2 linked regions of the Homo sapiens genome follow. The protein of the gene in region 1 interacts with the protein of each later gene in a pairwise test. Each region holds a gene or a part of one and is shown on either strand. Other genes may lie near its edges.

Evidence for each region.
Region 2: the proteins of ACAT2 (region 1) and WWOX interact in binary tests that used the Homo sapiens proteins (3 or more experiments, as listed by UniProt).

The regions. Positions count from the first base shown.
Region 1 is NC_000006.12:159,772,045-159,775,544, forward strand, and holds part of ACAT2 (acetyl-CoA acetyltransferase, cytosolic), read left to right. Parts: intron 1-3,125; coding exon 3,126-3,269; intron 3,270-3,500. UniProt on the Homo sapiens protein: Involved in the biosynthetic pathway of cholesterol.
Region 2 is NC_000016.10:78,435,154-78,438,653, reverse strand, and holds part of WWOX (WW domain-containing oxidoreductase), read right to left. Parts: intron 1-3,500. UniProt on the Homo sapiens protein: Putative oxidoreductase. Acts as a tumor suppressor and plays a role in apoptosis. Required for normal bone development. May function synergistically with p53/TP53 to control genotoxic stress-induced cell death.

The DNA of each region.
Region 1 (3,500 bases):
GAAACCCCATCTCTACTAAAACTACAAAAAATTAGCCAGGTGTTGCAGCAGGTGCCTGTAGTCCCAGCTACTCTGGAGGCCAAGGGAGGAGACTTGCTTGAACCTAAGAGGCGGAGGTTGCAGTAAGCTGAGATATTGCACCATTGCACTCCAGCCTGGGCAACAAGAATGAAACTCCATCTCTAAATAAATAAATAAATAGTGTAAATAAATACTGTATAAAATGCAAAGCACTCAGAATAGCCAAAACAATTTTGAAGTCAGAAAATAGCACTTACATGCTCTGATTTTAACATTACCTATAAAGCTGTTGTAAACAAGACAATGTGGTTTTGGCATAAGGACAGAGAAAGAGAACAGAGTTCAGAAATAGACCCAGACTTATGCTTGTTTTCAACAAAGGCATCAATGGAATGAAATGGAGAAATTAAAGTCTTTTCAACAAATGGTGCTGGAATAACAGATTACTCACATGGGAAAGATGAACCTAGATCCCTACCTCACACCCTATATAAAAGCTAATTTGAGATAAATCGTGGATTTAAAAATAAAAGCAAAAAATGTAAAGCTTCTAGAAGTATATATAAGAGAATAGCTTTTACAGGGTGCAGTGGCAGGTGCCTATAGTCCCAGCTACTAGGGAGGCTGTGGTGGGAGGATCACTTGAGGCCAGCAGTTTGAGGTTGTATAGTATACTATGGTTGATTTTGCCTGTTAGTAGCTGCTGCACTCCAGCCTGGTCAACATAGTGAGACATCATCCAACAAAAAAAAAAAAAAAGAAAGAAAAACAGCTTGATAAGTAAAGACAAGACATAGAAAGCAAAGCAATAACTTTTTTGTGTGTGTGTGTGGAGACGGGTCTCACTCTGGCACCCAGATTGGAGTGCAGTGGCTCAATCTTGGCTCACTGCAACCCCCACCTCAGCCTCCTGAGTAGCTGGGACCACAGGTACTCACCACCATGCCTGGCTAATTTTTTGTATTTTTTGTAGAAATGGGGTTTCACCATGTTGCCCAGGCTGGCCTCAAACTCCTGAGCTCAAGGGATCCTCCCACCTCAGCCTCCCAAAGTGCTGGGATTACAGGTGTGACCCACCAAACCTGGCCAATTCTCACATTTGTAGAAGAGAGTTACAAATACGGAAAGGGAGAAGAATGTAGCTTGTGGTGTTAGGTTGCATTTTGGAGAACTCAAAATGCAGTATGAACTCAAGGTGTTACCATGAGTGTGTGTGTATATGTAAAATTATAAATAATACATATGGAAGTTTCTACTGAACAGACCTAGAAACAATGACAAACCAGTAACAACAAGCAGTCCTGACACCCAGATCTTCTAAATACATTTATCCACTAAAAGGAACTAAGGTTGTTTGGAGAAATGGCCCTTTCCAAGGCTAGGGAAAAAATGCTAAAAAATTAAGGACATGCTCAGGGACATGTTGAAAGCACACAGGAGGCAGCCTACGGGGCTTCCACTTTCCTGTAGTGGAATTTTGAACAATTTGAGCATCAGAGTCAGTAATGATAGTAATGGGTTGTAACTGCCCAAATTTTGAACAATTTCAGCGTGCAAATAAGTTATGATAGTAATGGGTTGTAACTGCCTAAATTTTGAACAATTTCAGCGTGCAAATAAGTAATGATAGTAATGGGTTATAACTGCCCAAGTATTGAAAAATTTCAGCATCAAAGTAAGTAATGAGAGTAATGAGTTATAACTTATTCAATAAAATGAAAATGTATGAGTCCATCCTGATATAAATAACTGAATAAATGGGAGAAAAGGAAAAGGTTTTCTTTGTGGTAAAATGCCAATTAATATCTTACCAATAGAAGGAATGTTGGAGTTAGAAAGTCATGAATGAATGCTAAAACTAGTGGGTGAAAATATGATGGGGAAGAAGATATTTGGATAATCCAAAAAGAACCTCTGATAAATTATTGATTACTTATAAATGAAAAAATGGTACCTTTAAAAGCTAGAAACCTGGTGAATACCAAACCATTTTAACCAAGTGATCAAAGATAACATCACCTGGGATAAACTGATTGTCATTTGTGTCCTAATAAGACTCACTGAGAAAAATCATACTATCATTCAGTGGTATACCTGCCTTTTGGCAGAATCTTAATCTAATTCTGAGGAAACATCAGACAAATCAAAATTGATGACCCTTAACAAAAGAACTCGCCCATGTTCTTCAAAAATATCAAGCTTAAGAAGCATAGTCTGAAGAACTGTTACAGACAAAAGCAAACTAGAGAGATTGATAGTTGTACAATGCATGCTTCTTTATTGGCTCAAATAAAGGAGCTAGAAGGACATTACTGAAATATAGGTGAAATTTGAATGTGGACCAAGGATTAGATAATAGTGTTTGATTCATGTTAAATTTCCTGATTTTTGTTTTGTTTTGTGAGACAGGGTCACCCAGGCTGGAGTGCAGAGGCACAATCATGGCTCACTGCAGCCTTGAACTCCTAGGCTCAAGTGATCCTTCTGCCTCAGCCTCCCAAGCAGCTAGGACTACTAGCTACATGGCACACACACCATGCCCGGCTAAATTTATTTTTAATGGAGACAGGGTCTCGCTGTGCCCAGGCTGGTCTCAAACTCCTGGGCTCAAGTGATCCTCCCACCTCGGCCTCCCAAAATGCTGGGATTACAGGTGTGAGCCGCCACACTTGGCCCAATTTCTTGAGTTTTATAACTGTGCTTATGTAAGAAAGTGGCCTTGTTTTGGGGAAGTATACACTGAAATTAAAATTTAAGAGTAAGAAGGCATTGTATCTCCAACTTTCTCTCAGATGGTTCAGAAAGAAAATATTAAAGCAAATGGAGGGAAAATATAAATGGTGACTCTGGGTGAAGGAAATTTCTGTAAGTTTACAATTATATAGAAAGGGAAGGAGAGAAGTATGACTCCTGAGAGTCACTGCAACATTTCCAAACCAACTGCCAGTGGCAGGCAGGGCCACCCCACACAGAGCATTGCACAGGCCACCATGAGCCTGCTAGCATATGTGGTCAGTCAGTGCTTGGTCAAATGTGGACGACTTGAGCTATCAAATGCCAGTTCATGAAAATGTTAGTTTTTTGCTGTTTTTCTCCTTTCCCAGCTGAAAATGTAGCCAAAAAATGGCAAGTGAGTAGAGAAGATCAGGACAAGGTTGCAGTTCTGTCCCAGAACAGGACAGAGAATGCACAGAAAGCTGGCCATTTTGACAAAGAGATTGTACCAGTTTTGGTGTCAACTAGAAAAGGTGAGTATATCATAGTGGTTTAAACATCAACCTATTTATAGGTAAGAGTAACATCTAAAAGAGTAATACATAGGAATCTTTAGAAATTATATCTTAGTTATGTTTTTCAGGTTGCAAATATATGTCCTGGATACATGAATGTGGGGAGGGGGTATGCTGGGTTTACAGGACACGGTAACATGGGACCTATGTCAGCACTCAAGCACTCTTGGTTCCAGAGCGTCCATGACC
Region 2 (3,500 bases), on another chromosome or scaffold:
CTACCCTAACACATGATATTCTTTCTACTGTTATCTGCCAACACAAATATGTGGTTGCACAAAACACTCCTAAGAGGCAAGTGACAGTGCTCAACTTCAAATCTGCATACTGGTCCACAAAGGACCGGCTTGGACCTGGGAACTCTGGCAAGGATGTATTTACCAGAAATGAAAGCTTATGTGGAAAAAAAAAAGGTGGGGTTGGCGGTGGTGGCAGCATTCATTTCAGTGAAGGTGCTGTCAAACATTTTAAAAAGGAAGCATAACTGCATAACTAGATATGGATGCCAGGGGCATTACCGTGCATTGGACAAAGCAAATGCAGCTGCAATTAGCAAGTGAAAGTTTACAAGGCTGGTATATCATTTTCTTGAACACGCTGCATGAGGTTTCTGTGCTTTTCAATTACAAAATAAAGATAATAATTCTAAGATTGTAGAACTTGGAATTATTAATTCTAACAGAAATTATGAGAAATTAATGAAAATATATGCTGATACATAAAGCATCGTGGTATCTGGGAAAATGGTCAATCTGCATCTCTATTTGGAAGTGTGGTAGGATTCTAAAGTCATCACACATGGTTACAACTGCAAAAACCCAAGATTAGCCTTGAAAATCCCTTATGTGCACCAGATACAACACCTGGTTTTGTGAATTAAAACCCATAGACTAATATGTATATATAAATATAGATACTAAAATACAATACATTTTTTCACCAACTCGAAAGTTCTTACCAAACAATACACATTAATGCGTGCAGGTGCAAAACATTTTAGAGTAATTTAACTGCATAAAAGAATGCTCTAGAGTCAAGAAAATAAACATGTAATGCACGTATGATGTGACTTCATTATTAGAAAGTACTCAGCAAATGTTAGTTTCCTTTAACATATTTTAGAAGCAGCTATTTGAAGTATATTGCATCTTTTTTAGAACGACACTTAAAAATAACTCACTTTCCAAGTTTATCTGTGATTTTTATTTCACCATAAATTGAAGGGAGGAAGAAACAAACACTTCCCTCCCAGGACGCCCCAATACACTTGTCCAGTTCTCTGGATCTGAAGAAGAAGAGGGAGGCAGAGACATGGCTTTACCAGTAGGGGCCGCTGTGCTGAGAATTGATTCCTGTGAGTTTCTCATTAGTGATTATTATATTGCAGGCAGCCAAAATGGAAAAATTAATTAATTTCAAAGTGATAATGCATTTACAGCAACAATTAGAAATGTGTAACTGTAAAAGGGCAACATTTAAAAGACAGATCACATTTAATAAAGTTGCACAAGAACATCCAATTGTAAAATTACTGATCTGCAACAATATTCCTTAAAGAGGCACTTAAAATAGCCCGACTCCATGAAGAGTGACCTAATTACTGTAACTAAAATCACCGTAGTCACAGCAAGTCACAGCAAATAAAAAAGGGACGTTGATATTAGAATACTGCTGTTTAATACTTAAGGGAGCCAGCTACAGAGAAGAAATGAAGGCAGGGCTTCCGAGCGCAAGTCTGGGTTGTATTTCTTGCTCCCCTGACCTCATGCAACAGAATGTGTACTCCAGCAATACCCGTGTCAGAAGGAAGCACCCTCTCTAAGGTAAAAGGCAGACAAGGCAGAGCACACTAGCCATCTGGTGATAGGGACATTGCATCTATGCTAAGCTTCTCAATCACAATTAGAAACCCAGCCTTTACCTACGGAAGAAATGGGATGCAACTGCGTGGCTTATATCCAAAAATATGTCTGCATTCAAATAGCAGAAATGCACCCTTTGTCCAAGAAACTGATGCATTATCCTGACGGAAGCAATGCCGAGCCACATACGCAGGATAGCCCAAGAGGGTGACTTTTCCAGTCAGTCTGGTCTATCTTACTAGGAAAATGACCAACCCGAGGTCTACATTCACAGTGATTCCTCTCCTAAATACAGAGTCCTAAATGTTTATGAAAGAAAAGTGAATGCCTGTGAATTTGACAAGCAAGCTCAGAGCGCCAATTCCACCTCTGCATGAAGTGACGTATTACTTTCAATGGCAAAAACCTCAATAACTTCTGTATCAACCTAATATAGAGAACGCTGATGGCTAAAAAAGTACTACCAAACGCTTAAATATATAAATACACTAGAGAGGATTTTAGTAAGACTCTTAGCTACATATTCCACAGTCTTCGTCATCTTCATGCTTATCTAAAGTCCATTTGTGACATATAAAAGCTGCTATTTTCTAATCACTCAAGGTCAGAAACAAGAAAAGTCCACACCCTACGGCTTCCTCACAAATGAGACGTGCAGGTTGGAGATCACTGAACCAGGGTCCCTTCACCTGGACGCCCTTTCTACCTGGCCAGTAAACCTCTCCCTGAGTCTTTGGGGCCAGGGACAAAGCCCTTCTCTTCCCTTTCCAGACTCCCAATTTGCAGACTCTTGTTCTGTCAGCAGAGATTACATTTTGGAGAATCATCATCGGGACCAAGGCACTGCTCACAACGACAAGAGTAACAGCCATCGTGGCAGGAAGTACTGCATACCTCCCATGCGAAAGGCACTGAGCTAGGCATGTCATTTGACCACGCTCTCCAGTATGGCAGCCACTTGGCACACGTGGTGTTTTTCAGTTCGAATTAACAAACATGGAATCAAATTGAAAATTCACTTCCTCAGTTCTATTAGCCACATTTTTAGAACTCAATAGCCACATGTGGCCCACGACTACCATACTGGAGAGCCAGATTATAATAACTGCAGAAATTCTATATCCATCATTATTGATGTTATATGCATTATTGTCGGTCCTTACACTAACCTGTATCACAATTTTCATCGTAATGAGACAGGCTCAGAAAGCTGGTGACATGTCTAAGTTGTTCCAGTGGTCAAGGGTAAGAGCTGAGCTTAGCCATCAGCACCATTAGCAGGAGAGCTGTGAGGTCCACTGTCCCAGGTTGCCACTTTCTTGTCTTGCCACCACCAGGAAGTCATGTCAAATCCCATCTCAACTACAAGGGAAATGCTCACGTCCAGTGCCCTTTCTATGAGTGCCCCTCCACAGACAACTTCAACAAAACCTGGGATTTTTGCGATGTCACCACTTTTCTCCAAACCCTCTCATGAGCTACACACTCATTTTCCCACAGCTTTCTCACTCAGGGATCTAAAGCTCAGTGCGCAGTTAATCTTTTACCCAAGGCTGCTCCCAGAGGACATTTGTTTCTCCCAAGCCTTGCCTTGCTATAGGCATTGAGGCCTGTTCACAAGTAGTCTCTGAGCTCTCCTGCCAGGGAAATAGGAGAGACTGCAGTAGGGTGCGGCAGAGGCTGCTGCACACTGGTGGGGTAGGCAAAGGAGTTAGGCATGGAGGTTGGGCATCTGCTATTACTAAGACACACTACAGGTACGGTGCTCACTGAGTTGCAACCTTCGTCCAATTCATTGTGCATCCTCCCCGACATGGTAGTCCCTCTGCCTCCATTTCTAACCCCATACTCTGGTT